Linked DNA regions of Homo sapiens: region 1 is linked to region 2. Evidence: fine-mapped expression QTL. A gene starts in region 2. The other region holds a variant in brackets. All regions are shown on one strand. Distances are from middle to middle.

Evidence for each region.
Region 1: its variant is fine-mapped to the expression of GLE1 in whole blood (INTERVAL, PIP 0.97).

What each region holds. Positions count from the first base shown.
Region 1 is chr9:128,446,608-128,451,129 of GRCh38, reverse strand. It overlaps the pseudogene LOC100129352. Among named protein-coding and RNA genes, the nearest start is that of ODF2, 7.1 kb to the left of the region's middle. The variant A/T (reference allele first, on the strand shown) is at 2,493.
Region 2 is chr9:128,502,345-128,506,344 of GRCh38, reverse strand. It overlaps GLE1 (GLE1 RNA export mediator), which reads right to left and starts at 1,626. Exons shown (of 16, transcript NM_001003722.2): 1 at 1,441-1,626. The coding sequence starts at 1,539. RefSeq lists an enhancer at 1,226-1,385 and a silencer at 1,606-1,815.

The DNA of each region.
Region 1 (4,522 bases), 55 kb after region 2:
CAGGATCTCCAGCCCCTGCAACTGTGGGAACCCTCCAGGCCAAGTTCAGATGCTCCCTCCTCCATGAGGCCTGCGGTGGCTCCCACTTCTCAGGATGCACTGATGGCTCCCTCCTGGGTATGGGTCCCAATATCCCTGCTGTAAGCACTCGTGTGTGTACGGAAATCTTGTGCCACCTCCTACTGGGTGCTCTCTTAAGGCAAGGGCCACTTCTTCATGTCCCACAGAATCCAGCACAAAATAGATGCTCTGAGAGTTTCACTTTAGAAGTCCAATCAAGGATCAAATAAACTTTAAAGACTTCTTTTGGGGAGCCAGGCACAGTGTGGCTCATGCCTGTAATCCTAGCACTTTGGGAGACTGAGCTGGGCTTGAGCCCAGGAGTTCAAGACCAGCCTGGGCAACATTGTGTCTCTACAAAAAATACAAAACTTAAAGCTGGGTCCGGTGGCTCACGCCTGTAATCTCAGCACTTTGGGAGGCTGAGGCGGGCAGATCACGAAGTCAGGAGATCGAGACCATCCTGGCTAACACGGTGAAACACCGTCTCTACTAAAAATACAAAAAAATTAGCTGGTTGTGGTGGTGGGCACCTGTAGTCCCAGCTACTCGGGAGGCTGAGGCAAGAGAATGGTATGAACCTGGGAGGCAGAGCTTGCAGCAAGCCGAGATTGCGCCACTGCACTTCAGCCTGGGCAACAGAGCAAGACTCTGTCTCAAAAAAAAAAAAATACAAAACTTAGCTAGACGTGGTGACACTAACCTGTAGTCCCAGCTATTTGGGAGGCTGAGTTAGAAGGATCACCTGAGCCTGGGGAGGTTGAGGCTGCAGTGAGTAGTGATCGTGCCACTGTGCTCCAGCCTGGGTAACAGAGTGAGACCTCATCTCAAAAAAAAAAAAAAAAAAAAAAACTTCTAAAACTTTTAGACTTTTGGGTCTAAAAGTAATGTTAAAAATTTGGGAGCAACCTAAATATGCATCAACAGAGGAATCAATTAACATAGTACATCTATGTTATCTGTATACCAGTTTAAACGCATTAGGTACATCCATAAGTAATAATAGGAGAAGATCCCCAAGACATACCATATGATCCTATGTATGCTAAAACATAAACTGTAGGAGCCAGGCATGGTGACTCACGCCTGTAATCCTAATACTTTGGGAGGCCTAGGTGGGAGGATCACTTGAGGCCAGAAGTTTCAGACCAGCCTGGCCAACATGGTGAAACTCTGTCTCTCCTAGAAATACAAAAATTAGCTGGGTGTGGTGGCACACACCTGTGATCTCAGCTACTGGGGAGGCTGAAGCATGAGAATTGCTTGAATGCAGGAGGTAGAGGTTGCAGTGATCCAAGATCACCACTGCACTCTAGCCTAGGCAAAAGAGTGACACTCTGTTTCAAACAAAAAAAAAGACAGGAAATCTTGTCAAAAGGGTTAGGCCAGTTTATATCCAACCAACAGTTTCTTTTTTTTTTTTTTTTTTTAATATATGTTAACTGCTGTTTTATTGTTATTATTATTTATTAATTAGAGATGGGGTCTTGCTATGTTGCCCAGGCTGGTCACGAACTCCTGAGCTCATGTGATCCTCCTGCTTCAGTCTCCCAAAGTGCTAGGATTACAGACATGAGCCACTGCGCTGGCCTATTTACTGCTGTTGACCTTTTAATGTGTACCTTACAGACTTTTCAAGGCAAATGAAAATATTTTTCACTTAAATCAACTCATATTACACTTACTATTCAACAACCTTTTTCTCTGATTTAACATGGCACAGGTACAGCTGTCTTTCTGTGTTGGAGCCCCAACCAACAGTTTCTGAGAATGCATAAACTCACCCAGTGTTTACTGTGTTATAAACAACAGGAGGGATTTTGCCAGTCTTACAAGCAACGAATATGCCCTCTGCTAGACAAACTATCCCTGCATGTAGAAAACTGAAAGTCTCTCAATTCTAAGAGATTTTTGTTTTGTTTTGTTTTGTTTGAGACAGGGTCTGGCTTTTTCACCCAAGGTAGATAGGCGAATTGCTAGAACCTGGGAGGCGGAGGTTACAATGAGCTGAAATGGCATCACTGTACTCCAGCCTGGGTGACAGAGCAAGACTCTCTCTCAGAAAGAAAAAAAAAAAAAAAGGAAATGTATTGTCTGGCAGTTCTGGAGGCTGGAGTTCAAGATCAAGGTGTCTGCAGGGCTGTGCTCCTTCTGAAGGTTCCAGGGAAGGATGTATTCCCAACCTTGTTCTAACTTCTGGTGGTTCCTTGGCAGCATAACTCCAACCTCCATCTGGTGTTCTGTGTGTGTGCTTGTGTCCAAATTTCCCCTTTTTGTAAGGACATCAGATATACTGGATTAGGGACCCACTCTACTTCAGCAGGGCCCCATCTTAACGGATTACATTTACGATGACCCTATATCCAAATGAGCAGCTGGGTGCAGTGGCTCATGCCTGTAATCCCAGCACTTTGGGAGGTGGAGGCGGGCAG[A/T]TCATGAGGTCAGGAGTTCAAGACCAGCCTGGCCAATATGGCGAAACCCCGTCTCTACTAAAAATACAAAAATTAGCCAGGCATGGTGGCATGAACCTGTAGTCCCAGCTACTCGAGGAGGCTGAGGCAGGAGAATTGCTTGAACCAGGAGGTGGAGGTTGCAGTGAGCTGAGATCGTGCCACTGCACTCCAGCCTGGGCAATAGAGCTAGACTTTGTCTCAAAAAAACAAAACAAAACAAAATAAGGTCACATTCTGAGGTACTGGGGGTAAGAACTTCAACACATGAATTCAGGGAGGATGCAATTCAACCCATAACAGAATGTATAAGTTTAGTTTAAGGATTATAATAAAATAAACACTAACATAGCCAGGACACAGCTTAAGAAAGAAAAGAGGCTGGGCACAGTGGCTCAGGCCTGTAATCCCAGCACTTTGGGAGGTCAAGGAGGGCAGATCACTTGAGTTCAGGAGTTCAAGACCAGCCTGGCCAACATGGTGAAACCTCCATCTCTACTAAAAAAAATACAAAAATTAGCTGAGCATGGTGGCACATGCCTGTAATCCCAGCTACTCAGGAGGCTGAGGCAGGAGAATCTCTTGAATCCAGGAGGCAGAAGTTGCAGTAAGCCTAGATGGCACCACTGCACTCCAGCCTGGGTGACAGAGAGAGATTCTGTCTCAAAAAAGAAAAAAAAAGGAAAGGAAAGAGATTAAAAAATCATTTCAGGCTGGATGTGGTGGCACACACCTATAATCTTAGCACTTTGAGAGCCAAGGAGGGCAGATCACTTGAGCCCAGGAGTTCAAGACCAGTCTAGGCAGCATAATGAGACTTCGTCTCTACAAAAAAATAAAATAAAAAACCCAGCCGTCACAGTGTGTGCCTGTGGTCCCAGCTACTTGGGAGGCTGAGGTGGGAAGATCACCTGAGACTGGGGAGGTGGAAGCTACAGTGAGCTGTGATCAAGCCACTGCACTCCTGCCTGGGCGATAGAATGTTACTGTCTCAAAAAGAAAAAAAAAAAAGTCCAATTTTTTTTTCTTTTTGAGACAGAGTTTCGCTCTTGTTGCCTAGGCTGGAGTGCAATGGCGCGTGCGATCTCAGCTCACCGCAACCACCACCTCCCAGGTTCAAGCGATTCTCCTGCCTCAGCCTCCCAAGTGGCTGGTATTACAGGCATGCGCCACCACGCTCAGCTAATTTTGTATTTTTAGTAGAGACAGGGTTTCTCCATGTTGGTCAGACTGGTCTCGAACTCCCGACCTCAGGTGATCCGCCCACCTTGGCCTCCCAAGGTGCTGGGATTATAGGCATGAGCCACCACGCCTGGCCTAAAAAGGTCCAAATTTTATATCACCTGCAGCTGTGAATAAAGGTTCTCACTATTAGTAGCCATCAAGAATTTCTTAAGAGACTACCATTACAAAGCCTATTTCTCCTGATAAAAAGTTATCAGAAATTGTGTGTAGCTGTTTCAAACATGAAACCTGCCATAAAAAGTTATTTTCATAGAAGCAAGCTCACATTTCACATGTATTTATTTAGCTACAGTGTCTCGTTCTGTCACCTAGGCTGGAGTGCAGTGCTGTGATCATAGCCCATTGCAGCCTTGAACTCCTGGGTTAAAATGATCCTCCCACCTCAGCCTCCCAAGTAGCTGGGACTGCAGGTGCACACCACCACACTCGGCTATTTTTAACTTATTTATTTAGTTAGTTTGAGATGGAGTCTCGCTCTGTCACCCAGGCTGGAGTGCATTGGCGCAATCTCAACTCACTGCAACCTCCACCTCCCAGGTTCAAGTGATTCTCCTGTCTCAGCCTCCCAAGTAGCTGGGATTACATGTGCGTGCCACCATGTCTGGCTAATTTTTGTATTTTTAGTGGAGATGGGGTTTCACCATGTTGGCCAGGCTGGTCTTGAACTTCTGACCTCAAGTGATCTGCCCGCCTTGGCCTCCCAAAGTGCTGGCATTTCAAGAGTGAGCCAGGGCGCCTGGCCCTTGTGCATCCTTCTTGATAAAGAA
Region 2 (4,000 bases):
GAGACACAGTCTCACTCTGTCACCCAGGCTTGAGTGCAGCAGCACAATCTCGGCTCACTGCAACCTCTGCTTCCAGGGTTCAAGCAATTCTCATGCCTCAGTCTCCCGAGTAGCTGGGATTACAGGCATGCACCACCATGCTCGGCTAATTTTGTATTTTTAGTAGAGATGCGGTTTCACCATGTTGGCCAGGCTGGTCGCGAACTCTTGACCTCAAGTGATCCGTCCCCCTCGGCCTCCCAACGTGCTGGGATTACGGGCCTGAGCCACCACGCCTAGCCTTGCATGTGATTATTTTGATACAAGCTTACAAAATCTGGGACATTTAAAATAAAATAAATAAATAATAAAAGTAATGGATTACAACTCACTGAATAAAATAGAAAGCACCTCCTTACAGTAGAATGCCAACTAACAAATGCAGAAGGAATAGCGGATATAAAGAAACAGGATCTGGCAACGTCATAGAGGTATCGATTCATGTGGAAAACATCAATGAATGCTAAAGCCATGGAGGATTAAGGTTTGCCCAGAAAAAAGGATACTGGTATTATTACTTCCCAACAATTACTAAGGGAAAAATGACGAATTTTAAACGGAGAGACCAGGCAGATAATAACGTAACCAGGTGATCAAGATTAGCATCACCAGTGTTGGGATGGGTTGACATCTGTGTGCCTCCTCATGTGACTTACTGAGAAAGCCATGGCATCATTTCTGTGGTATTCCTGCCAAGAATGCTTAACCTTGGTCTGGTGGTTTGAAAGCACATATGCTGGCAGTCAACCTACAGAATGTAAGGTCTGTATTTTTCAAAACTGTCAACAACATAAAAGACAGGGAAATACTTTAGGATTGTTTCCCAAGAAGTCTGAGGATGCAGGACAACGCCTTATCTGTAGCTAACTAGCAGCGACTCGGGAATGGGAGCTCGGCCTTAACTCTCCACATCCCTCCACTTCTCGCGCAGAGCTTTGCAAATGCTAGGTACGGTGACCACGCCCCCATTCACTTTCCAGGTCTGCCAAATCAATCTAAAAATTTGGTCATTTCACTAGTAGCAATGGATTAGGTCGTGTCAATCGTTCGTCGCAAACTCTAGAGCTCCCAGCACATGAGACATACAGTAAGTTAACTGAACCTGGGGCCGAGATTGCTTTGACAACAGCAGAACGGAGAAGGCGCCCAACTGGCGGAGGGTAGCAATGAAGCCTTCAGAGCGCGGGGCACCTGTGAAGTCAGGGGAGCTCCCCGAAACGCTAAAATAGGCTGAAGAGGACAGAAACCCCAGGACAGAGGGATGTACACACAGAAGTCAAGAAATAAATGCAGGTTGTTAGACTGCACGGGTTCCCGGGAGCAGAACGTGCCAACGGCTAGGGAGAAGGTTTCGGTCGCGAGGGGCCGGAAAGGCCTACGTCCTCCGGGGCCACCGCTCACCTCGCGCCGCAGCAGCCAGTCGCGGTAGTAGCAAAGGCGACCTTTGTCGGAACTGCGTAGGGCCTTCAAGGTCTCCCAGCAGCGACCCTCAGACGGCATGGTTGGCTAAGGGGCAGCTTCTCTGACGCCCCCCTTCTGACCAAACAAGCCCTCGAATCAGCCGCCGGGAAGGCCACACAGGCTTCTGCTTCCGGGACGCGCGCGCAGCACAGCCCCGCCCCTAACGCCTGCACGCCCCACCTCCGGCGACGCTCCCGCGTTCCCGCCCTCCCACCAGTGCGCCTGCGCGCAGGGCTTGGCTGTCGGGGCACGTTCCGCAGAGGTAACCACCGCTCCCAATCCCCGGGGCTGCTGAAAATTTGTCTGTGCCTTGAGACTGTGCAGAAACTGGAACCCTCATACACTGCTCATGGGACTGTAAAATGAAGCACCTGCTGTGGAAGACAGTCTGGCAGTTCCTCAAAAGGTTAAACAATTACCATTTGACCCAGCAATTCTCCTAGGTAAATATATATATATATATAAAATACGCCAAAGAAATGAAACCTATGTATATATAAAAACTTGTCCATGAATGTTCACAGCAGTGTTATTCATAATAGCCAAAAAGTGAAAGCAACCCAAACGTCCATCCATTGGTGAATGGATAAATAAAATATAGTACTATGTGCGCGGTTCCCGAGTTCCCCCGCTTTCTGTGCACTGACCAAGTATCAGAGTGCCTTGACCGCCCTGTGACCCAGCCAGCTGCAAGTTTTTTCCTGCAGACTTGCAACCAAACACGGGCCTTGCATATCCCTAGGCACTAAGGATATCTAGGTTATTGCCCAAAACGCTGAAACTGACCCCTGCTTTTAGCCAAATTCCATAAACCCTCATATAAACTTCATACCCTGACCCCTCGCTGGGGATGTACCTAGGTGAAACACCGCTTCTCTCTGTCTGTCGCGAGAATTGCTGCAGCCCACTCTGTAAGCTTCCCTAATAAATGTTTTGGGTTTAATGCTGCTTTTTTGAGACAGAGTCTTGCTCTGTCCCCCAGGCTGGAGTACAGTGGCTCGATCTCGGCTCACTGCAACCTCCGCCTCCCGGGTTCAAGCGATTCTCCTGCCTCAGCTCCCCGTGTAGCTGGGACTACACGCGCCAGCCACCACGCCCAGCTATTTTGTATTTTTAGCAGAGGCGGGGTTTCACCATGTTGGTCAGGCTGGTCTCGAACTCCTGACCTCAGTTGATCCACCCACCTCGACCTCCCAAAGCGTTGGGATTACAGGCATGAGCCACTGCGCCCGGCCATAGTGCTTCTTTGGAATCCCAACCAGCCCTGTTTGGCAGGAGGAAACACCACATCTATATAATGGAATGTTATGGGGCCATAAAAATAAAGTGCTGATGATACGCTGCAACATCAATCTTGAAAGCATTATGCTGAGAGAAGCCAGTCATGAATGGCCACATGTTGGACAATTCCACTTATGTGAAATATCCAGAAGAGACAAATCTATAGAGCCAGAGAAACTTTATGACTAGTTGCCAGGGGCTGGGGGAGGGGAATGGGGAGTGACTGCTAATGGGTATGGCGTTTCTTTTTTGGGAGTGATGAAATTGGTTGGCTGGGTGCCGTAATCCCAGCACTTTGGAAGGCCAAGGTGGGCAGATCACCTGAGGTCAGGAGTTTCAGACAAGCCTGGGCAACATGGCAAAACCCTGTCTCTACAAAAAATACAAAAATTAGCCAGGCAAAGTGCCATGCACCTATAGTCCCCACAGGCTGATGCAGGAGGATCCCTTGAACTCTGGAGGCAGAGGCTGCAGTGAGCCGAGATGGTGCCACTGCACTGTAGCCTGGGTGACAGAGAGAGACTCCATTTCGAAAAAAGAAAAAACTAGGTCTAGAATTAGATAATGGTGATGGCTACACAACTTGGTGAATATACTACAAACCATTGAATTATATATACACTTTATCTTTTCGAGACAGAATCTCGCCGTGTTGCCCAGGCAGGAGTGCAGTGGCGTGATCTTGGATCACTGCAACCTCCACCTCCTGGGTTCAAGTGATTCTCCTGCCTCAACCTACCAAGTAGCTGGGACTACAGGCGTCCACCACCACTCCCGGCTAATTTTTGTATTTTTAGTAGAGACAGGGTTTCACCATGTTGGCCAGGCTGGTCTCGAACTCCTGACCTCAGGTGATCCACCCGCCTCGGCCTCCCAAAGTGCTGGGATTACAGGTGTGAGTGACCACGCCTGGCCTATATTTACACTTTAAAAGGGTGAATTCTAGGCCAGGTATGGTGGCTCATGCTTGTAATCCCAGCAGTTTGGGAGGCCAAGGTAGGAGGATGGCTTGAGCCCAGGAGTTTGAGACCAACCTGGACAACATGATGAGACCTGCCTCTACCAAAAAAAAAAAAAATCCAAAAATTAGCCAGGCATGGTGGCATGCACCTGTGCTCCCAGCTACTCAGAAGGCTGAGGCAGGAGATCGCTTAAACCCAGGAGGCTGAGGCTGTAGTGAGCCATCATTGTGCCACTGCTCACCAGCTTGGATGACAGA